Linked DNA regions of Homo sapiens: region 1 is linked to region 2. Evidence: fine-mapped expression QTL. A gene starts in region 2. The other region holds a variant in brackets. All regions are shown on one strand. Distances are from middle to middle.

Region 1 (12,724 bases), 840 kb before region 2:
GAGTTTGCCTATATAACAAACCTGCACATGTACCCCTGAACTTAAAAGTTTAAAAGAAGGATACAACATGATTAATTATAGTCACCATATTGTACAATAGATCTCCTGAACTTATTCCTCCTATCTAACTAAAATTTTGTACCTTAAGGTCTGTTCAAGTATTAGGCTCTGGTGAACAGGTAGAATTTTTTTTTTTTTTTTTTTTTTTTTGAGATGGAGTCTTGCTTTGTCACCCAGGCTGAAGTGTAATGGCACAATCCTGGCTCACTGCAACCTCCGCCTCCCATGTTCAAACGATTCTCCTGCCTCAGCCTCCTGAGTAGCTGGGATTATAGGCGTGTGCCACCACGCCCAGCTAATTTTTGTATTTTTAGTAGAGACAGGGTTTCACCATGTTGGTCAGGCTGGTCTCGAACTCCTGACCTCATGATCTGCCCACTTTGGCCTCCCAAAGTACTAGGATTACAGCCATGAGCCACTACGCTCAGCCTAGAATTTTTTCCTGATTGTGAAAATATAGCCTCTTTTTCTACTAATGGGTTCAAACTACCAATGATCTGGTCTGAAGCAGGTTAAAAGAGTCACAGTTTTTGTTTTGCATCCTCCATAGCACCATTATCCAAAAATGATGACCAAAATCATCAAAATAGACCCTTAGCAAAGATTCCAAGAACTCCTAAAGACAGACCAATTTTCAAAATAAAATCTGTCAGATGCATTTTGCTTTATTTTGTTTATGAGTAAAGAAGTATCTAATAAGTCAAACTTCTGGTAGGGGAGGGGCATCTGTTGGCTAAAAGCAACATATATGTTAAGTCCAAAGCCTGTGCCAGGTGCTTTGAACCTACTTTTGCTTTAAAATATCTGATGAATATTTAAGGATGGCTACATCACAGGTTTGTTCTAGTTCACCTCTACTATATGAACAAACCATCACAGAGACGGAATAATTCTATCTCTAGTCTTCCATGTTTTTTCCCTCTAACATTTCACTAAACTATACCAATTAATATTTATACCACATTATTTGAATGTGGCCTGTGTATTACAAGTATTTATTTTGGGACCACTTTAAGGAAATTTCCATAGTTACATTGTTGTGTGGTCTATTTATTGATGCTCATTAAAACCAATGTAACTGGAAAAGTATTTTTACTTTCTATAACTAACTCACCTGCTTTCCCTAAAGAGTGCCTCCTACTAACTCCAGAGCAAAAGTACTCCTGAGTATCTTTATGGGTTTGATATGTAGGTTTGGGACTGGAAATTTGAGGGGGCCTTGAGTTCCACGTCTCAGTTAATGAAATTCTTTCCAGACTAGCCAATCAGCACACAGAAAGCCCAGCAATAAAGGCAAGTAAAACTGAGTAATCTCCAGAAACTTTCAGATGCCATGGGGAGGATTAAGATTTCTCCAGGCCAAGCCCAGTTAGGGTTTGGAACAACTCAATTCGGGTCCCAAGGACTTTAATAAAATCTTCTGATCTCTGGGTCCTTTTTATTTATACATATATTCATGCATGCTTATTTAAAACCCAAAATAACCCTGTGGACCAGATAGCTCATGTATTATTTTTGATAAAAATCTGGGTACCAAAAGGTTTTGCAGTTCATCTATCACCATTTTGATAAGGGCGACAATCTGTGTCCCAAGATCCTTTAATATTCTTGTCATCGAACCCAGAGACTTTTCCAAAATCAGAATATGAAAAACAAGAGGTAGAACACAAGGTGAATTTCAAGTGCTTGCATTTCCAAGTGATGATTGTTGGAAATGTGATTGTAAGTCTGTACTGTGCTTTTTAATAACTTGATTGTGAAGCTGGAAAGACACTTCCTGCCTCTGCTTGGTGGTCTCATTAGATTACCATTCTCCTCAATGTTGGCAATTTATTGCAGTTTCCCTTTCCTATCTTTACACCATTCATTCCAATGCAGGGAAAAGATTTCAAAAACCACTGCAATGCTCCCATTAGTATTAAATCTTACACTTTAAATTTAAGTTATTTAATATCAAAGCTGTGAAACTGCCAGATGGATAGATTTTTCTTATTGATTATACATTTAATAATTTTATGAGAAACTACATATTTATTTCTGTTAAGAATGATTGGATTGAAGATAGCTTAAAGAAAAAAACAGCCCAAATTCCACCACTATTCAATACATTCATGTAACGAACTTGCACATGTACCCCTGAATCCATGAAAATAAAAAATAAGACATTTTTAAAGACCTATTTCTTTGGTTAGTGTTCTTATAATCACAGAGTAAAACCTTATTTTTAAGTTGTGATTTCTTCCACACGTAAAAAAAAATTCTTTGTTGTATCAGCTAATTTATTCTCATCCTATTCATTTTAATAATTTTTTCTCATACTTGGAACATATCATTACATAAAATAATCACCTTTTGCCCAGGATAAAGTAATAAAAGAATTAGAAGAAACTTAGCCCAAAATTTATGCACAGACATTTGGAGTATTTCCATCTTGTGAACTTCAGATTTATTTTCATCCTGGCCTCTTATTTTGAAATTGCTTCTCAGAGTCATCACATTTGTGCCTGTCTTCATGGTAAATTGTTTTTAGCATAGCAATATTCTCAGATCAATTGCTGGTGGTAGTAATGTTAGTATCAATCATGTACAAACACGTAATAGCTGGGAGACAAATGAGATCTACCTCTCCTTCTTCTTTTAGCCAGGTACAATTTGCTCTTCTGAAAGATGTCTTTACTACAAAGTAATATCCTGGGAAGTCTGAAAACACATCAGTTAGGCACTAAGAATTCTTTCAGCCCACCTGGTCTGCAGAGGCAGGAAGGTTCATCTCTGTGAATTGGCCAAAACCATGGACAGATCCTCCATACTACTGTACCAGATGGTGGTTCTGAGTGCTGCCATGGAGAAGGGTCCTATAACTTCTATCCTGCCTTCCTAAGCCTTCATATTTTTCTCCTTCAGTAAGTCCTTCTCCTCTTCCTCCTCCTCCTTGTTCTCCTCCTCCTCCTCTTCCACCTTTTCCTTTTTTGTAATTTCCTAGCCCTTAGATATTAGGATTTCCTGGTTGTTCACAATTTGAATTCTAGTTGTTTGGCCCTGAGGACTTTTCCCAAAATTGCTAATGGATTTTGCAATTTTTTCCTTGCCTCTTAATATGACTTTCCTTTGTATTATTTCTTTTGCCCAAATATATGTCACATTTTTGTTCTTCTAAGTTGTGTTCTTCTGTTTTGTTTTGTTTTGTTAATGTTGGCTACTGTGTTCACCCAGCCAGCCTCTCAGAAGGCTGTTTTTGTTATATTCATTACAAATGCTATACTTAAATATGTCATAATTTGAATGTAAATGTATCCCTTGTATAGCATGTGTCATATTTTACATAGGTGATATGTCAGTCAGGATGTCAGTATGAAAGAGTTGGTTTACACAGATGGAGTAATTGAGGAGAGTCTGTTGAGGGACTACTTACAAATGTATGGAAGAATAAAGCAAATGAAGCATAGTGAAGTCCATGGGACTAGCAACAGATTGGAGTCATTATCCTGCTAGGCCTAAAGAGACAAGGGAATGGCAAGGTTAATGGAATCTGGAGAGGGCTCCCTGATGGGAGCTACAGCATTTGGGACAGGAATGAAGTTAGTATGTAATGAGCCAGCAGGAAGGGAGCCTGGAAAATGAAAATCCTGAGATGACTCTCCCACCCAACTCTCCAAGTTTTTAAATGCACTTCCTGTTGGCTGAATCCAGTGGGAGGCCATAAAGCAATGAATCTCATTGATGTGGTCCATAAAAGCCAATCTCCAGGCACAGCACACAGTGGAGAACCATGGAGAGGAGATCTGAAGGGAAAACAGAAATAACCAGACACATATAGTATGCATTGTTGGATCTACAAAATAATGTTGAAAAAATTGCAGAGGCATTATAAACCCAATATGATCTATATTGTAGAACCCAATTTATCCATATTGACCACTTGGTACTTATAGCAAGTGACTGATCTTCAGGGGTATCTTGCTCAGATACTTTGTCCTCTCTTGAGGATTAAAGCCAATTATTCATCATGAGATTCCTCACTCAATGCCACTCACCACTCAAAACATTAGACAAACATGAATAGGTAATCGTCATTGCCTAACACTAGCATAGCTTGGAAAAACCTTCAGGTGAATATATTCAGCCATACGTGAAAAAGTAACATCATGTTCTACCAAATTTTTTTCCTCAATTTATTTGATGATTTATAACAGCTTTCAAAACTCCCCTTGATTGAGGTTGAACATAACCCTTAAAATCTGAAAACAGCCACAGTGCTGTGGTTTTTGACGAATCACCCCAGCTAAAAGTCGCAAGCTCATGCTTCTTATTTATTCATCTGTTCTTGCCAAGGAAATTTGCCAGTTCCTCCTGGTGCAAGTCTCCTGGGAAAAATGAGAGGAGAAATAATAAGGGCACCTTGAAGAAACAATGTAATTATACATAAAGTACTGTAGGCAATGATGAAAGTTTAGACGATTTTGCCATCTCATGGAATTAAGAACAAGGGCCCTCCTTTCCCTGACAGTAGAAAAAAGATATGAAGACACATTCTGGCACAGATATGAATCTTTTTAAATATTTACTTTTAATCACCATTTTAATCCTGGCATTTATATACAGCTACATGGTAAAATGACTGACTTCCCTCATGAAGGCTGAACCCATTATTTGGCTATGTCACCCCCATACTCTAGTAAGCTGAGTCAACCCATCATCAACAAGTCACCAGATACAAATTAGTGACATGTTGATGCTATTGGCTAATAGTTAACATTGCTGTTGGGCCCAAATGGATGAAACGTCCTTCTTAACATCTACAAATAAATAACCAATTCATCAAATGTCACTCTCTCCACCTGGCACTTAGAGGATACGTTAGTATAGCACCGTACCGTTTACAACATTTTAGCTTTCTAGTTAACACCTTTCAATATACTCCTGCTTCATAAATTGTCCCTCACCCTAACGCATTGTTCATTTTGATGAACAGATATTGTAATAGACATCTGTTGTTTTTATCTGTCCAACATCCTCGCACCTTTCTCTGGAAAAGAGCCCCCATATTTTCCTCTGTATAATAAAAACTTCTCCTTTCTTAGTCCACGTGGTTTAGCTTAGTCTAACATCCCATGTCAGCTCCAGAAGGCACAACACACAGGCCTGGCCAGGTAGCTGATTTCAATACTTGAACCCAATTGGGAAAGAATTGGTCACATGCTACAAGCCAAATTAATGAACTGCTATTCCAAAATTTTATAAACATTACAGGGGAAAAGAAACTTTCCTTTGGGGTTAAGCCATCAAAGAGGGTAATGGACTGTACAAGTGAAGATGGTGAAAGCTCTGCATCCAGCCATACCTGAATCTGTAGCCACCTCTGGACCCTTGAAAGATGTGAAACCAGAAATTTTCTTCATTGCTAAAGCCAGTTAGAGTTGTAGTTCTATCCCTTATAACCAAAAGAAAGAATTCTGATTAATGCAAGCAGGAAACTACAATCTGGAATGTGTCCAAAAATCTAAGGATAACATAACTAAATTCTGTTACCTATACTCAGGGCTTCATATGTTTGTATTATAGTTGAGTCTGAGCTGATCCAATTTTGAAAAAGATAAGCCTTCCTTCTGTTGTCATCACCTTGAACATTGCCATTTGTGTCAGATTCAGCCCCCAGCAATGCTTACCTAGCCATTCTTAAGAAAATATCCAAAAGCACGCCCACTCTAATCCTCCAGTACTCTAGGGGGAGGGTGGTTCATTTTTCCACGCACAAATGAGATTATTAAAAGTTTTTTTCTCAACATTTTAGAACAAGACTCCCCACGTGTATTACAGATATTAATCTTAAAAAATCAACCCTTTAAAATGGTTCCTGAGCCAATTGTTTAAATTATACTAACTTGTGAAAATACACTTTTTAATAAAAATATCTGTAGATGGCGGACCTTTCTTGGTATGTAGTTTAGATTACTGTTCAGCAAATATTCTCTTCCTTCACCCTCCCTATAAACAGTGTTGTGCTTGGCCATGTGATTTGCTTTGGCCAATACATTAGTAAACATGATGCAATAAAAGCCTTATTGTTTTTGCATGGCTTGGCTTGGATTTTAAGCTCCAGTATTAAGCCATGATAAGAGCACGTCTTGGGTAGGTAGCTGCTACCACTTTAGCCTGGGCTACAGAAAAAAATATGTGTGGAACAGACAAAAACCAAACTCAGCCTGGAACCTAAGCTGAGCCAACCTGTAGCATGAAGTAAAACTACTCAGCCAATCCCATTCTAGATCAGCCAAACCACAGAAAACTGTAATGTGAGAATAAAATACTTATTGTAAGCTATTACAGTTAAGATGATTTTTTCCACAGCACTACAGGGGCACTATGTGACTGCTATACTTTGTATAAATGCACTTCCATGTTTCATGTGCTATTGTATAACTCATGCAGCCAGTATTCCTTAAGAGATAGGAGATGCACAAGAGAAGTGGGTCCTTGATCTAAAATATTATCATTGAATGTCAGCCCTTAATTTGATCTCAGACACAGTCTAAGCAAATAATCCCCATCCCAATTTACGTTGAGACCAAGAGGGTAAAATGGCTTCCTTCAGGTCACATGACTAAAATGACCTAGAGCCGACGTCAAACAAAAGAATCTTTACTTCCAGCCTCACGATCTTCCCATAATGCCACTCTAACCTTTCTTGGGCATTTATAGATAAATTCCTACTTTACTTTAACATCTCACTGTCCTTGCATTGATAATGCTGTTTCCTCTAAGGACTAGCTTATAGCAAAATACAGAACATAAAAACTAATGATATTGGACGTTTGCAAAGGTTTTCACTACCAGAGAAGGGAGGTAATGCCAATTTGTCTATTCCTTGTCCTCAGAGGTAGGCAAAGAGTAGCTTTGGCCAAGACTGCTTCCATTTCTTGCAAGTCTGTATTCTGAAAGTCTGAGTTTATTTTTTCATCTATGCTAATAATTATTTAGAGAATATACTTCTATTTTCATCTTTTTG[A/G]ATGTGTTCTATTAAATACATTATTTTTAGAAGAAAAAAGAACTATTGGATACTAGGTTTAATACTTTGGTGATGAAATAATCTGTACAGCAAACCTCCATGACACTAGTTTACCTATACAACAAACTTTCACATGTACCCCGAACCTGAAATAAAAGTTAAAATAAAATAATAACAATAACTGAAAAAAATCGCTATAGCAAAATGAGCTGAGACCCTGTAGATCGTTTAAACCAGAAGTCATAAACTCAGATGACTTTAGGGTGAAAAAAAAATCTCTATAGCAAAATGAACTGAGACACTGTAGATTGTTTAAACCAGAAGTCATAAACTCAGATGACTTTAGGGTGAAAAAAAAATCTCTATAGCAAAATGAACTGAGACACTGTAGATTGTTTAAACCAGAAGTCATAAACTCAGATGACTTTAGGGTGAGAAAAGTAAAACACATGAGTCAGGAGGCGGGATGAGGATTCTTGTGAACTGAGCATATCAGGCCTTGTTACATGGGGTGGGGAGAACAACAGCTACTAACTAGCTAATTGTGACCAAGTTGCCAAATCTTTGGTTATTCCAAAAGAAGTCACATCTCTGAATTTTTATGGGAAATAATAATTTTTAAAGGATTGTGACTATTTTTATTGACACCACATTTCCTATAAAACATACCTGTGAACTGGATGTCACTGGTATGTAACTTCTGGCATAAATTAATGTACAGGGAATAACACTGCAATAAACATGGATGTTCAGATGTCTCCTCAACATACTAGTTTCATTTTCTTTGAAAACATATAACCAATAATTGGATTTGTGGATCACAGGGACATTTTATTTTTAATATTTTGGGGAACGTCCACATTGTTTTCCATAATAGCTGTACTAATTTACATTCCCACCAACAATGTATATGAGTATTCGTTTCTCTACATCCTTGCTAGCAATTGTTATTTTTTGTCTTTTTGACATTTACCATTCTCACTGGGATAAGGTGGTATTTTGTCATGGTTTTAATTTGCATTTCTCTGATGTTCATGTTGTTGAGCAGTTTTTCATACATCTGTTGGCCATATATATGTCTTCTTTTGAGAAATGTCTGTTCAGTCCTTTTGTCCATTTTTAAATTAGTTTATTTGATTTTTTGCTATTGAGTTGAGTTCCTTATATATTCAGAATATTAACCCTTTGTCAGACACATAGTTTGAAAATATTTTCTCCCATTCTGTAGGTTGTTTCTTCACTCTATTGTTTCTTTTGCTGGGCAGAAGCTTTTTAGTTCAATGTAATTTTTTTGTCTGTTTTTGCTTTTGTTGCCTGTGCTTCTGAGTTTTTATTTAAAAACTTCTTGTCTAGCCCAATTTCAAGATGCATTCCACCTATATTTTCTTCTAGTAGTTTCAGGTCTTACAATTACATCTTTAATACATGTAGAGTTGATTTTTTTAGATGCTGAGAGATTGGAGACTAGTTTCATTCTTCTGTATGTGGATATCCAGTTTTCCCAGCATCGTTTATTGAAGAAACTATCGTTTCCCCAACGTGTGTTCTTGGCACCTTCATAAAAAATGATTTGGCTATAAATGCATGAATTTATTTCTGGGTTCTGTATTCTGTTCCATTGGTCTATGTGTATGTTTTATGTCCATCAACAGGTTAGTGGACAGACAAACGGTTAGTGCTATCGGTCATGCGATGAATACTAACCAACAATAAAAAGGAATAAAATATTGTTACACATTACACCATGGAAAATTTCAAAATAACTGTGCTGAGTGACAGAATCTAGACCAAAAACAAGTACACATTATGTTATTCCCTTTATATAACATTCAGGAAATATGCAACCTCATCTATAGTGGTATAAAGCAAAGCAGTGGCAGACTGAGGATGGGTGGTGTGAAGGGGTGGGAGAAGTGTGGGAGGGAGCCATAGGAAAATGGCATGAGCAATCTTTTGGAGAAAATGGATATATTCATTATCCGACTGCAGGGATTATTTCACAGGTGCATACATATATCAAAACTAGTTAAATTGCAAAACTAGTCAAACTTCACAGTTTACTATATGTTAACTATACCTTAACAAAGCTGTTTTGAAAAATTAAAAAGAAATTAATGCATAGTGAATGTGTTATTAGAACTTTAAAATAATCTAACTAGGTCCTATATTAATTATAACATCTGGATTGTAGGATTTTAAAAGAGAAAATAAATCTACAAACTAGGATTGAGTGACTAATTCTAGAAATATCTGTTTGTAAGGGTGTACTTTTTGGTTCACTCCAGTATCATAAGACAATAAAGTAAATATCATATAGTGAAATTCCCTAAAAATAGACAATGCCACGTTTTGCCAAAACATCTATGAAAGTATAGAATATTTTCAAAAGAGTGGAAAATATCTGAGAGCACAGCCATAAATTTATAACTGTTCCTCTAGCATGTTAAGTAACATTATACATCAATTTATCTACTCGGGGTAGGTCGTTCAAACTGATACTAAATAGTGTATAATTATCCAAAGCATTCAGATCAAAGTAAGTAGTTTCCTAGAATCTTATGTTTCATTATAATGGGCAGAGTTTACCTTATAAAATTAGTGTACACGTTTGAATGTATTAAATTTTATTTTACACATAAAATTTTTATCTTTTAAAATTCCTGTTTATATTTGCTAACAAGGCATATACTTTGTTCTCTCTGAATTATTTCTGAGTTATAAGTAGTTTGAGAAACACAAAAAAACTCCTTGTTGAAGATAATTTCCATAATTATTTAAAAAGTACATTGAGAAAGATTTACTATGGTTTTTAAAAGATCATGAAAAAGGAAAGAGAAATAACACAAGGTAGAGAATTCATGAATAGATAATCACTTTCCGCAGACAATAAGCAATGTTCCAATAAACCCTGAGAAATAACTAATTACTTTTCTAAGTGAGCAAACATTATTCTGTAGTCCCGTAGACCTGAAAAGGAATCTAAAGATAGTGAATAGCAATGTGTTCCTAATTTTCAAAAGAAGATTAAAAGGGCCGCTCGTCCTCATTGTTTAGCTGCTTCAAATCCTATCAAAATAATAGAACCTAAATTAGCAAAAGAAGCAAATTTTCACTGTCCTGGAAAATAAGGAAGTGAGAAGTAGCTTTTGTTTGTGAAGAGATGATTGGTCTGAGTAAATTGGATGACTTTGATGAAATTACAAAAGGAATATAACCCAAAGCACTGTAGATTCAATACTTTGATAATAATAAACACTTGAAGCCATATAAATTCTCTTCACTATATTAATTTAAGATGGCTTAAATAATAAAAATCAGCTGAGAATTTTCAACTGAAGGAAAAACAGAGATAGGTTATTTAAGGAAAAGATACAAGTTGGTGAAAGCTATAGGAATTGGAGGTAGGACCAACTGAATCACAGTGATTTAGAAGTGGGTGCATACTGAGAAACTAAAATTTCCCAAGTATCTGAATTTTTAGTTATAGCAAATGTGAGAGTATATGTAAATACTAGAGGAAAATGAGGTGAGTTCTTGGAAAATAAGAATAGTCTGGTGGAAAAAAAAAGACTTGATCAATGCTGAGTTCAAAATTGGGCAAAGATCTGTAAAGTGGTAACGATATTTCAGAAAGCCTGCATATGGGCTGGAATGGAGGGAACAGACAGGGCAGGGTCTTTAGGAATAATCCATTGAAAGGGTTGACAGTCAATATGGTTTGGCTCTGTGTCCCCACCCAAATCTCATCTTGAATTGTACTCCCATAATTCCCACATGTTGTAGGAGGGACCAAGTGGGAGGTAATTGAATCATGAGGGCAGTTTCCCCATACTGTTCTCGTGATAATGAATACGTCTCATGAGATCTGATGGTTATTATAAGGGGGAGTTTTCCTGCACAAGCTCTCTTTTTTTGCCTGCTGCCATCCATGTAAGACCTGACTTGATGCTCCTTGCTTTCTGCCATGATTGTGAAGCCTACCTAACCATGCGGAACTGTAAGTCCAATAAACCTCTTTCTGTTGTAAATTGCCCAGTCTCACGTATGTCTTTATCAGCAATGTGAAAACAAACTAATACAACAGTACAATATGACAGTAGAGAATTGTTCCTACCTGATTAATGTACCATTACTGCATTTAAAATGTTTGCAATGAATGCAGCAAAAATGGCAAAGCCCAACCTGATTTTTAACAAGGCTGTATTTTAAATTGTGATTTTCAGTGGTATATACCCTATTTCTCTCCAGATTACACATCCCACACAATTGAAGAGAAATCAACAGAAAAATTAGATCTTTCTCCAGTAGTCCAAAGAATATTCAAAGGTTTGGGGGACTCTCCTACGGCTGCTTCTGGCTTGCTCTGTACCCCCAGTGGTAGGTTTTCCTTGGCATGATGCTCTATGAATCCAAAGTTCTCCTTTTAGAAGTACATCTAAATGTGAGTATCCCAATCATGCCTCAGGTGGTTTTGGTTTTTTAAAAAATCACCCAAGGTCTCTTGATTTCTAGTATTAAGCCATAAAATGGGAGAGTTCTAGTCTTGTTTTGCAGGACAACATCTTCAAAGAGACTCTGGGGGCCTGTGGCACATCTGAGCCAGAACCAAACACCCGACGTCATTGTTACAGATACAAAAGTAAATAAATGAAAAGAAGCTCCAGGTATTGGTGATTTTTATATCTCGTGCTGTCAATCTGTTTGTGTCAGTTATTATTTTTTCAAGTACACAAAACTGATAAATATGAGACCATTTGGGGGAGGTTACACAAAAATAAGTATGCCTGTTGGCCACAATATGTTATTAAATAGTATTGTGGTCCTCAGCATTTCTCAAACTATTGATGATGCTTCCTACATTACAGCGTATGTTTTCACAACTCTTTTGAAATTATAGACTTTGGCTCTGAGGTATCTAATCCAACAGTCTCTTTTCACAGATAGAAAGATAGAGACTTTGAGAGGTGCAATATGTTGGCCCACAGCCAAGTGGTATACATACCTAGTACTAGCAGAGCCTGCAATAGGGTCCCTGGCAACAGGCTTCTAGGTCTATCCTCAAAATGTGCTGCTGCCATTCTCTCTACTGTCCACCTTGACTATTGTTATTGGAAAAAGGAGTTTGAGAAATAGTTGTCTAAAAGAGCAATTTGTGTGCACACATGGGTGTGTATTAGCATTTCAAATAACAATGTATCAATAGATATCCAAGGGATAAATACATTTCCTCTTCCACTTGCTTACTACATTGTTGTGTATTGAAAATTTAGTATTTGAATAACCAAAAAAATTATCTTTCCATTTGCTATTCTGTCCTGACAATATTATGATGAGCTGTATTTTATGTAAACCACTAAAGAGGACTTATTTTAATTAGTCATTCAGGTTTTATATCATTTCTGGCCAATTTTACACAGTTTTAGTTATTTAAAATGTAGCTATATGAGATTCAACATTTACCAGCATTTCATATTTGGAAACTATTTAAGAAATGAAGTGGCCAGGCGCAGTGGCTCACGCCTGTAATCCCAGCACTTTGGGAGGCCAAGGCGGGTGGATCACAAGGTCAGGAGATAGAGACCATACTGACTAACACGGTGAAACATGAAAACCTTGTGTTATAATCAAACGGATGGACTATGAGGGGGTAAGCTGTTA
Region 2 (12,724 bases):
AACAAGAGGAAAGGAGTCAGGGATGGAGCTTATATTCCCTTCCAAATATCAAATGAATTGGTTTTTAAAAACGGCTTGAATCCATAATTCACAACAAAATGAATGAAATAACAGATTGAGAGCCAGGCTCAGCAGCATGTGCCTGTAGTCCTAGCACTTTGGGAGGCTGAGATAGGAGGATCGTTTCAGCCCAGGAGTTTGAGACCAGCCTGGGCAACATAGTGAGGCCCTGTCTCAAAAGGAAAAATAAATAAAGAGAAAGAAAAGAAAGAACTAATTAGCCATCAATGGAGAATTCTGGTTAACAACTGATTATCTTCATTTACAAATAAAGGTAAATAAAGCGAATCCAGCATTATTCTGCCTTTCATAAATGAACTGTGCCACTGGAAAACCAAGCAGTAGATGAGGCAAAGTGTATCTCTATAGAAATACATCAGTTAATAAACAGAGGACAGAATTAGATTATTGCTGTTTTAGAACACCTAATAAGCCAAAATATTTAGGTCCTGAGCATCAACAGCTGCTAACATCAGAAAAAGAGAGATAACCAAATATTCAGTGCCTCTGATGAAGACAGATGCCCCACAGTGTGACATATTCTAGCTGAAATAAAATAGAGCTGACCAAGCAGGGAGAGTTGCATTATCCAATAGAACTTTTTGTGGTGACAGAAAAATTATATTCTGTACTGTCCAGTACATTAGCCTCTGGTCACACATGGCTACTAGCATTTGAAATGTCGCTAGTAGGACTGAAGAACTTAACTGTTATTTTGAGACAGGGTCTCGCTCTGTTGTCCAGGCTGGAGTGCAGTGGTGCAATCTTGGCTCACTGCAATCTCCACCTCCTGGGTTCAAGCGATTCTCCTGCCTCAGCATCCTGAGTAGCCTGAATTACAGGTGCATGCCACCAAGCCCTACTAATTTTTTTTGTATTTTTTTTTAATAGAGTCGGGGTTTCAACATGTTGGCCAGGCTGGTCTTGAACTCCTGACCTCAGGTGATCCGCCCGCCTCGGCCTCCCAAAGTGCTGGGATTACAGGCATGAGCTATGGCGCCTGGTCTAATTGTTAATTCTTAATTGACTATGGCTGTGATAGTCACATGTGATACTGGATGCTGCAGCTGCAGATCCAACTATCCGTTTAGAGAAAACCTAGGGGACTGAGAAACATTAGGCACATGGTGATGCGCTCAGCAAAATCCAGACTGTTGGGGACTCTACAAAACAAATCACCCATTTCTTCAACAATTAACTTGATGGAGGGAAAATGTATGAAATTAAAAGAGGCTCAAAAGACATGCCAATCAATTACAATGTGTGGACATTATGTGGACCTGATTAAGCAAACTGGAGGGGAAAAGTATTAATTTATGAGACAATTAGTAATGTGAACACAATTGGTAATGTGGGTGTGATCATGAATTTTGGTCTTTATCCACTAAACGCACATTCTGAACTATTTATGGTTGAAATGGTATGATGTCCTAGATTTGCTTCAGAATCATGCATGGGGCAAGGGGTGGGAGTGTGGCTGGGCAGGACTGGCCATGGGTTAATGGTTGTTGGGGCTGGGTGGCAGATACGTATGACTATGCCTTTGAGATTGTAAATAATACAAAGTGATGGGGGTATGGGGACTACTCCGTAGACACACATCTGCACCACTACAAGACTCGATAGAGAGCCGGGTAAAAGGCCAAGCATACTTTTGAAAGAATCTAAACTTAATTTATTTTGAAGAACCCATGGGAGAGGACAAAAAGAAAGAACAGAATAGGAAAGGGTGAGAGGACAAATTCACTTGGTACTCCATACTTGGACCTGGGTCCTACCAGCCAGAGAATCACGTATGAATACTATCAGCCAACTTCAGAGTTACTTACTTTCTAATAAGCCTCCAAAGGACAATGGTGATTAGTATTTCCTGGGTTTCTCTACCCCGCAGCTGAAGACCTGCAGATGGATCCAGCACAAAAGGGACCTGCCATGCACACTCTCTGGAATGTACATCATCTTCTCACCCTTATTTGTTTGGCAAATTACAGAATTCTCAGTAGTAAAGAGACAATTTCACAATCTGCCCTGAGGCACACCGTCAAAAGGCAGGTAGGCTGGGAAGGGCCAGCCACATTTCCTAATCTGCACCTCGGACTCCTTTTCCAGATCCACCCATCAACACGATCAAGTTAGTGAATCCCATGTCCTTACAGCCAACAAAATGTTGGGCATTAAAACTTGCTGTATGTCACTGTCAGCTAACTTCCTCTTGGGCAGTTTACACATGCACAGAAAGCTAAACACTTTACACCCACTATCTCATTTAATCTATGCAACTCTTCTAGGAGGCTGATTCTTTGAGTCCTCCACTTTACAGATCAAGGAACTGAGGCTCAGAAGAGATAATGATCCATGAACACAGCCGTTAAGAGGGACCCAAATGGCAGGGCGCGGTGGCTCACACCTGTAATCCCAGCACTTTGGGAGGCCAAGGTGGGCAGATCACCTGAGGTCAGGAGTTCAAGACCAGCCTGGACAACATGGCGAAACTTCGTCTCTATTAAAAATACAAAAATCAGCCAGGCTTTGTGGTAGGTGCCTGTAATCCCAGCTACTTGGGAGGCTGAGGCAGGAGAATCACTTGAACCTGGGAGGCAGAGTTTGCAGTGAGCTGAGATTGCGCAACTGTACTCCAGCTCCAGGCGACAGAGAGAGACTCTGTCTCAAAAAAAAAAAAAAAAAAGAGGAACCCGATTGAGGTTTTCCTTCTTACATCATCCAGAGCTTCTCCTCTGCCCAGCAGGAGCACCCATATTTCTTGGCTTGGCCCCTTCACCATCTCACCCTGTCCTGGTTACATTTCCAGCTCTTTACCGCCAACTCTCTCCCTGACCCCAGCAAGCCCTGTTTCCTATCTTCAGCCACCAGAGCTTCATCCTTTCTATGCTCCAGCTGCGGGACTCAGCCCACACTGCCCTCAGGCCCACCCGCCTCCCTTCTCCCCAGCCTTCAAATCCACATCAGGACACTTTCCCCACTCAAATCGGTCACGTCTTTGTTTGGAATTCTGGTTTCACATTCACTGTCCTGCAGCAGAGTTAATAATGTTTGTGTCTCCCTATTAACCTGAATACTATCTATGGTTATTGGGCACATACCATGTTCTACCCTCCACTCATTTATCCTCACGATGCTATCAAGTAGGTATCATTATCATCTTACAGATAAGGAAACCGAGGCTCAGAGGGGTGAGCCACTTGCTCAAGGTCCACAGCTAAGAAGTGACAAAGCCAGAGCTTATATGATTAACCGCTACTGCCAGATGATTCTGGAAGGAACACCAGGGTGGGAGCATTTTTACCTCCTGCTGCCTTGCACACCCCAGGTGTTAGACGGGCAGAGTGTTGCTTCTCTGTGCCAGGCAATAGCTCAAACCTGCCCTTCTTGTGGTCCTGGGAGCCCACTGCCTAAGAAACTAATTCTTGGCTGGATGCGGTGGCTCACGCCTGTAATCCCAGCACTTTGGGAGGCTGAGGCAGGCGGATCACCTGAGGTCGGGAGTTCAAGACCAGGCTGACCAACATGGAGAAACCCTGTCTCTACTAAAATTACAAAATTAGCCGGCGATGGTGGCGTATGCCTGTAATCCCAGCTGCTCGGAAGGCTGAGGCAGGAGAATCACTTGAACCCGGGAGGCAGAGGTTGCAGTGAGCTAAGATCCAGCCATTGCACTCAGCTAAGATCCAGCCATTGCACTCCAGCCTGGGCAACAACAGCGAAACTCCATCTCAAAAAAAAAAAAAAAAGAAAGAAAAGAAAAGAAAAGAAAAGAAACTAATTCTTAGAGAAATTGTGAGTTCAGCATGCCTTGGAAAGAACTTTATAATTATACAACGTGCTAAGTCACAGGCAATTTGGTCAGTCATTTGAAAACTGCCAATGCCATGGCTGATAATAATTCTGGAGGCTTGGAGCATATTAACACCAAAATGTTTCCTTTTTGGGGGTAGAGGCAGAAAGAGGGAACCTAAACATCCCCAGTAAATAAAAATTCCCCTGGAAACTATGGAAAGAAGACTCTTAACGGTTCAGGAGTGAACTGTGCCTCCCGCCCCCCTTCCCCCAGCACACAGGCAACTAATCTAGGAAATAAGATTGGTTTACGTCTTCCTTTAATCCAGGATTCCAACGGCCCTGTGTGCCTGAGGCAGAAGAGTTTGCCTAAAATATTTGTTAAGAGACTGGATGAGAATCTGTCACTTTCTCTCCAGGGGAATCTGGGCAATTGGGGGACAGAGGGGCAAACTAGCTGCAGAGGCTCCCAAAACAACGTTGCAATTGTCCTTCCAGCCTGGTGATAAATATGCAAGTGGGGCACTTTGTAGAATCTCCCGAAGGGCAGAGCTACCAGCCTCAGGCAAATTTTTCCCTCCCACTTAACCCCACCTGGCCCGGAAGAGCCTCAGGCCAGCTGACTTTGAACCTCACCCTCACACTTACCGCTAAGCTGCCGGCCCGCACGGTTTCGGCAGCTTCTTCTTTAAAGAGGTCTTTCCTTTGGATCCCAGCTGAAGCCTCAAACCTCAGTTCAAAACCAAATGCGCCTCAGCCCACCCCGGAGTCAAACCCTGGGAATACGCAATGTGCATAGGGGACCTCTCCCAGGAAAATGAGGGGTCCTTTCTCAATCCACAGCAAAGCCCAGGCTCTCCCTCCCCACCGCCCTCTACTCCCGGTCTGGGTGGCAGGAGGGCACCGGAGAGCCCTGGAATTACCACCTGCACCGGGGGTCTAGGGGGTGCACAGTGTAGCACTGCGGCCCACCAGGCTAGAAAGAGGGGCCAAGTGATCATAAACCACCACCTCCTAGCTCCAGCTGGCTGAGTCAGTGGAATGGGATTCCTAAACCTTGGTGGGTAGCGGATACCTTTGAGCAGACCATCATGGAAGTTCTGCCCGAAAGCGCAGGTGGGCGTCCAGAATGTTCGAGGGGGCCCCGAGGCGCGACCATAGATGGGAGGAAACACTCCAATCCACTGGGGTAGGGGCGCTCGAGAAATCTGTAGTTGAACCCTTTTACCCATCAATTTAATTCAAGATTGGAAAGATGACAGATCTAAAGTGCCGTGCACAAGCCTCCTGTCTGACAGACACTGGGAACCGGTTCATGTTGGGAGAGGCCCACTATGTGTCAAGCTGCCGCCCAGGTCCAGAACATAAGCATGGGGGGTGAACTCTCAGAATCGCGGCGCCAGGAACTGCGTCCCAGAGGGTGGAATTTCTGAGAGCGCTGAGGCTTCCTTTCCAACCTCAGGAACTCCGACGGCCTTGGTTATTCTACAGGCCTAGCGCACAGAACGGGCTGCTGGCGGAAGGCAGTGATGCCTGTGCCTTTTCGGCAGTTCCAGAGGCAGCACTCGGCATCAGGCGGGGCCACCGGGAGGACGGAGCCCACTCCGGGAACCGGCCGCCCCTGCGCAGCAGCTACCCTGCGGGCGGGAGGACGCGCCGAGGCGCCCTGGCCGCCGCCCAGGGGCAGGTGCAGGAGCGGCGCGGCGGGCGCGCTCGGGGCGCGGGTGCCGGGTTGCGCAGGCGGGCGCGGCAGGGAGGGGCGCCGGCCTCGGGAGCCCGACGCCAGGGCGTGGTGCAGGTGGCGGCGGGGGCAGAGTCGACACAGTACCTTGATTTTCGATCTGGCGACCGGGCGCTGCTTGGTCGCCAGGTGTCCATCGGGGCCCTCGGCGTCGCCGGGCTCGGGGGTTTCGCTCTCGGGGGCGTGCGGGGACGAGCTGCTCTCTGCTCCTCCAGGCTCCCCCGCGCTGCTGCTGCCGCTGCCGCTGCTGCTGCCGCCGTCGCTGCGGCAGTCCTCGGGGGGGTCGTGGAGCAGGCGGCCTAGGCCCACTGTGGAGGGAGGGGCCGCGCCCCGACACACACACTCGGCGTCAACCCGCACGCCCGCGGCAGTTTGACCTGCGGGCGGTGCTGCCGCCGCCCCGCCCCGGACCTGGGCACCTCGCCAAGTGGGCAACGTCGCGGGGGAGGCCAGTAAGCCCCGAATCGGCCCACAGAGCTAGCTTGGGGTGCTCGGAGCCTCTTTCCGGTCCCAGCCAAGGCGCCCACGAGGAACCGGGCGGCCACGAGCGGCGGAGGACCCCGCGCGCCAAGTTTCCTCTCAGGGCGGGGGAGGCGGATCTGACCTCTCCCCAGCTAGCCCCAGAAGGGTTGGCGAGCCTTTGTGCACCCCCATGAGGACGTGAGATTGGGGGTAGCCTCTGCTGGCTTTCAATCCCTTTCCTGGGCCACCTTGGCCCGCGCTGCAGCCAACGGTCCCGCCGCCGGGCAATTAGAGGCTCCCACTACGGGGAAGGGGGCGCCTAGAGTCTGGGGCATCCCAGTCCCTCATTGCCTGCCCTAACCCGCCTAGAAGACCCCCGCGTGCCCCCCGGAAGAGGGGGATGAGGTGGGGAGCCCGCCCCTGCCGATGAGCAGAGAAGACCCGCCACCCCTTCCCCCACCCCGGGAGCCCAGCGCCCAGGCCCGGCCCCCGCGCGCGCTCACCTGGGATGTAGGTGTCTGCCCTTTTCTCATCCGGGAGCTCATCCCAGCTGCGGACCGAGACCCCCAGGCTCCTCCTCTTCACCAGGAAGACTTTGGGCATGGTGGGGTCCCCTCTCCCGACTGCGGCCCCCTCCTCCCGGCTGCTCCCCGCTAGGGGCAACGGCGGCGGCTCCGTCCCCGGCTCCCGGCGGCCAGAGCCCACCTTCCCGCCTCGCCTGCCCTCTTCCTCCACCCCCCGCCGCGGCGCGGCCCAGGCCTCTCCCCCGCACGCCTGGCGACTCCCAGCCTCCCGGCTCGGCGACACCTATGCCTTAAATCGCGAGTGAGACCACGCCGGGGAAAAAGTTTCATAAGGTGGAATAGAAAAGGCACCAGGAAACTTGGGACTGAGCATGCGCCCTGCAACATAACGGTGTCAACAAGCTCGCTACCTGTCCGACCGGTTCCGGCGGCCGGGGCTGCCTGTTCCAGCCCTTCCTTAGGCATGAATGTTTGCAAAAGAATTTAAAGTCTGTTCTTCCCCCTCCTCTTTTTAAGAAAGGAAGAACATTTTTTAATCAACCCCCGCCCCATTCCCCCATCACCTGCACCTCGAGGCGAGCTCTTCGAGGTAAACCCCAGGTTCGCCTCCCAGGGCACCCCTCCGGTGAGTTGGGGCCTCCCACGAGTTGCCCCCCTCCCCCGCCCGGTGGATTTGTCTTCGACGAGCCAGAAAATGGCTCAGTTCCCCTGGACCTTGTGGAGCCTTCCTGGGGCTTGATGAAATCTGGGCGGTCAGAAGGGGGAGGCGGCGGGAGACTTCCAAGGATTCTGATTATTAATAATGGGGGGTGGGGGCTTAGGGGCTTAAGCTTTCCATCAGCTACAACACCCCCCCCCCATAAGCAGTAAAAATAAATTTAAAAATTCGGCATCTTTAGACCACGTTATTTTTCTGACTAGTATCATACAATCTAAGAAAAACAAGCCTTGCCCCGCCAAAGCAGCTTCTCCTCACAAGACGTTGCACCCCCCGAGAGCCCCCTCACCCCAAGTAAACACACAATAGAAACAAAAGCCAGGAGCATATTATGCAAATGCAGCTTCAAAACAAGCCCCCAATCCTCGCCCACTCCCACCGTTGCCTCTCCTAACCACCCGATCCCCAAATTCTGAGACTGGGAAATACCTTTCCAGGAAGCTAGCATAGTGAACATTGGCTACATCTTCTAGCCGCCCCTACCGGGGAGGTAGGAAAGCTTTGCATTTATTATTATATCTGTTTGTTCCTATCAACCTTTATGCCTGGAGGGGAGAGGGAGAGAAGGAGGGGGAGTTGGTAAAATATGCCAAGTTTGTAAAGCAGTTGTGCTCACGTTGCGGGGCGCGCTGCCCTTCCCAAGGCCTTGTTCGGGTGCGCCCAGGACAACCGGCACAGCCTCTTGTGTCGCTGCGGTCGCCCTCCTCCAGGAGGTCGTCAGACGTGTGCCAGCTGCCGGGTGCTGCGGGGGCGCGTCTGGTCAGGGATGCCCTGGAGCCCAAGGCTCACCCAACAGCCAGCCTCACCTGTCTGTAACCTGACCCTCCGCGCTCCCAGCCTACAGGGCCCGGGAATCAACACAGCGGTTTTCCCTGTTCCCTTCCGCCCTGAATGGCCCTTGGGGACACAACCGCCTGGTAACGGATTTCTCGGCGCTACTGGCGGACTCGCGCGGCGCAGGGAGCCGGGGCGCAGCTCTGCCGGGGCTGCGGGCGGGACCGGTGCGCGGCGCCTCTAGGTCTGCCCTCAAGGAGTCACCCTCTCTGGACTGAACTCTGAACTCCAGCTTTTCTCTAAGAAAAACCAGCTAAGAACGAAAAAGACTTTGATCCCGGTGAGCCGGAGGAGGAGGAGGAGGAGGAGGAGGAGGAGGAGGAAGACATTTCTGTAGCGGTGCAGGAAAACAAGGCTTCTTGTCTATGAGGCTGATGGGGCAGCTTCCGGGAGACTCTGCAGATGTATTTTTATCCACCAACAAACGGGATTTGCTAGAAAGAAGGAGCTTGGGTGAATGGAAGAGTAAAAATGAAGTACAACTATGAAGTTACAGAATTATTCCCAGTCTTTAAAAATCTTCAAAACTTCACTTCGTTCAGAACTTCCAATTATACAGAAGAGGCTGTCAACTCCATTAACAAAGCTTTTTTTTCCTTTCACTGGATTTCAAACCAGTGAGTGTCTTGACTACTTTGCCTATTTGTATTATTTTAAAAGATTATAGGATGATGAGGTATAAGGCTAGAAACCTCCAAAGCAATGCAACCTTTATAGGTTTGGGGATGAAGACTTAACAGGATAACAACCTTTTTATTCTATGGTCGTTGGATGCACACCTACTATATTTGCTGGGTGCTTCCTGAGGAGAAAGGAATTTAATGTGTTTTATTTCTCTCTTTTTTCTTGATCAGATGTGATAGGGGTCTATCAAAATTATTAACATGTACAAAGAACCAGCTTTTATCTTGGTTGACTTGCCTCCATTGTAAGGTCGGTTTTCTAAGTATTATGAGAGGAGTTGATAGAGTATCCCAGAAAGCAGGATAAGAAGTGAACCCAATTCTCCTTTTCTTGCACTACTATTATATGCTTATACACTGTTGGTGAGAATGCAAATTAATTCAGCCCCTGTGGAAAGCAGTTTGGAGATTTCTCAAAGAACTAAGAATAGAATTACCACTGGACCCACCAATCCAATTACTGGATATACAACCAAAGGAAAACAAATCGCTTTACCAATAAACACTTGTGTGTTTATTGCAGCACTATTCACAGTAGGAAAGACATAGTATCAACCCAGGTGCCCATCGATGGTGGACTCAATAAAGAAAATATGGTACATATACACCATGGAATACTATGCTGCCACAAAAAAGAATGAAATCACATATTTGCAGCAACATGGATGCAACTGGAGGCCATTATCTGGGCAAATTAACTCAGAAACAGAAAATCTAATACTGTAGGTTCTCAATTAGAAGTGGGAGCTAAACATTGGGTACACACAGATTCAAAGATGGGAACAGTTAACACAGGGGATTTCAAAAGTGGGGAGGGAGAGAGGGGGAAAGCCTTGAGAAACTACCTATCAGGTACTATGTTCACTATTTGTTTTTATTTTCATTTTATTTTTGAGACAGAGTTTCCCTCTGTCCCCAGGCTGGAGTGCAATGGTGAGATCTCAGCTCACTGCAACATCTGCCTCCTGGGCTCAAGCAATTCCCGTGCCTCAGTCTCCCAAGTAGCCAGGACTATGGGCATGCACCACCACACCTGGCTAATTTTTGTATTTTTGGTAGAGACAGGGTTTCACCATGTTAGCCAGGCTGGCCTCGAACTCCCGAGCTCAAGTGATCCGCCCCCCTCGCCCTCCCAAAGTGTTGGGATTATAGACATGAGCCACCACAACCGGCCTGTGTTCACTATTTGGGAGATAGGATCATTGGAAGCCCACACTTCAGCATCATGCAATTTACCCATGTAACAAACCTGCACATGTACCCCCGAATCTAAAATTAAAAAAGAAAAGAAAAAGTAAATAATGCTTTAAAGCTTTTTCACATTATTTCCTAAATACCTTTATTTACATTCATTTGGCAATATTATTTGTCCCATTTTTTAAGAAGGAGGGAAAATAGGCTATGAGAAACTAAGTACCATTCAAGTTCTGCTGGGCGCTGTGGCTCACGTCTGTAATCCTGGCACTTTGGGAGGCCAAGGCAGGCAGATCACCTGAGGTCAGGAGTTCCAGACCAGCCTGGCCAACATGGTGAAACCCCATCTCTACTAAAAATACAAAAATTTGCTGGGCATGGTGGTGCACACCTGTAATCCCAGCTACTCGGGAGGCTGAGGCAGAAGAATCACTTATACCTAGGAAGTGGAGGTTGCAGTGAGCCAAGATTGCCCCACTACACCCCAGCCTGGGTGACGGAGCAAGACTCTGTCTAAAAAAAGTCTCGCTGTGTTGCCCAGGCTGGAGTGCAATGGCGAGATCTCAGCTCACTGCAACCTCTGCCTCCTGGATTCAAGTGATTCTCCTGCCTCAGCCTCCTGAGTAGATGGGATTACAGGCGCCTGACACCACACCTGGCTAATTTTTGTATTTTTAGTAGAGATGGGGTTTCACCATGTTGGCCAGGCTGGTCTCGAACTCCTACCTTATGATCCACCCGCCTCAGCGTCCCGAAGTGCTGGGATTACAGGTGTGAGTCACTGTTCCCAGCCCAATTATTCTTCATATGCACATCCTCATATCTCATTTGCAACAAAGTCAGTTTAACTTATTTATTAAATAACAAACGATCTGCATAAGTTAAAAATATATAAAAGTAGACATTTATATCTGAGCCTCTTATTACATTAAGTACAAAATATACTTTTGATTGTCTTGTCAAACTGTAGAGATGTGTTGCTGAGATAGTGCAGGTACGTTTGGTAGAGTTGAGTGAATTCTGGGTGTAGCTACTGGCCTTGAAATAGATTCATTTCCATTCCTTCCACCTGGGATCGTGGCCTCTGCCTTATTTGGACGGAGCCCTCAGTATGAAAGCAATTTATCTGGCTCATATTACACAATGTGTTAAATACCTTGTTACCTCTTTAAATATAGACATTTTGGTCATAGTCAAAGTTGAATACTCAGAACTTAAAAACACACACAAGATGTTAATAAAAACAATTTCAATTTTAAAAAAAGAAGAAATGAATCCAATTCTTTACAAATCTCAAGACTGAAGTTGGAAGAGACAGGAGACATAATGTGGTCCATACCCCGCCCAATATTGGGGGTGAGGGGTCTGTACAGCATCCTTGGTAGGTATGTATCTAGCCCTGCTTGAATACTTCTAGTGTTGGGAAGCTCACTGTCTCAAAAAGCAACCTATTCTCTGGTTAGACAACAATGATGCTAGAAAGCTTTTCTTTCTGCTTGTGGAAATCTGCTTTCCTGCCCTTCCATCTCCCCTTTTATTCTGTCATCCAGGGCTGCTGAGACTCCCCCTGTACTCCCTCCCCCTGGTAGCTCTTCAAATTCTTGAAAGCAGCCATCTGCACCCTCACTTAAGACTTCTTTTCTCCAGTAATATATATTCAGGTTGAAAGGAGGCAGGTACAAACCTGCTCAGTGGCATCCCTGGAGCACACAGCAATAAGGAGAGGGTAAGATGTTGTTGAGAAAATATTCCTAAGGAAACTTTATTTAAACTTTTTTTTTTTTTAGACAGAGTTTCGCTCTTGTTCCCCAGGCTGGAGTACAATGGCACGATCTCGGCTCACTGCAACCTCCGCCACCCAATTTCAAGCGATTCTCCTGCCTCAGCCTCCCGAGTAGCTGGAATTACAGGCATGCACCACCATGCCCGGCTAATTTTTTGTATTTTTAGTAAAGACGGGGTTTCTCCATGTTGGTCAGGCTGATCTTGAACTCCCTACCTTAGATGATCCGCCCACCTCGGCCTCCCAAAGTGCTGGGATTACAAGCGTGAGCCACCGCGCCTCCCACCTAAACTTTTAATTGAAGTATAGTACAGTATTAGGAAAATGATATATTTTTACCCACTGAACTCACTAGTGGAAAAAGCACCCAAGTACAAGCCAAGGGTGCCTGCTCTCACCACCCCACTCACATTAGATTGCTTCCTTGCAGGTACAGCAAGGCAAAAAAGAAGAAATAAGAGTATAAGGATTATAAGGGAAAACAACAAAACTACTATTGTTTGTAGTCAGCATCACTGTCTACGGAAAACCCAAAAGAATCTATAGATAAATTATTAGAATTAATAAGAGACTTTAGCAAGATTGCAGTGTAGAAAATCTGAGTGTGGGCTGGGCACAGTGGCTCATGCCTGTAATTCCAGCACTTTGGGAGGCCAAGGTGGGCAATCACAAGGTCAAGAGATTGAGACCATCCAGGCCAACACGGTGAAACCCCGTCTCTACTAAAAAATACAAAAATTAGCTGGGCATGGTGGCGCATGCCTGTAGTCCCAGCTACTCGGGAGGCTGAGGCAGGAGAATCACTCGAACCCAGGAGGTGGAGGTTGCAGTGAGCCGAGATCGCACCACTGCACTCCAGTCTGGCGATAGAGCGAGACTCGGTCTCAGAAAAAAAAAAAGAATCTGAGTGTGTAAGGTTTCAGTGTCAAT

Which allele goes with the higher level. Alleles are on the strand shown, and positions count from the first base shown. SD is a standard deviation of normalised expression in the study named.
In carriers of allele G in region 1, the expression in unexposed skin of the gene that starts at base 6,943 in region 2 tends to be higher than with A alone (moderate effect, 0.52 SD a copy in GTEx).

What was found.
Region 1: its variant is fine-mapped to the expression of OVOL2 in unexposed skin (GTEx, PIP above 0.99).

The regions. Positions count from the first base shown.
Region 1 is chr20:17,212,510-17,225,233 of GRCh38, forward strand. It overlaps LOC105372545 (a long non-coding RNA gene), which reads right to left and starts at 5,747. Exons shown (of 3, transcript XR_937290.2): 1 at 5,590-5,747; 2 at 5,402-5,491; 3 at 4,274-4,424. The variant A/G (reference allele first, on the strand shown) is at 7,067.
Region 2 is chr20:18,050,974-18,063,697 of GRCh38, forward strand. It overlaps OVOL2 (ovo like zinc finger 2), which reads right to left and starts at 6,943. Exons shown (of 4, transcript NM_021220.4): 1 at 6,562-6,943; 2 at 5,684-5,904. The coding sequence starts at 6,661. RefSeq lists enhancers at 2,520-3,020, 5,348-6,135 and a silencer at 5,537-5,626.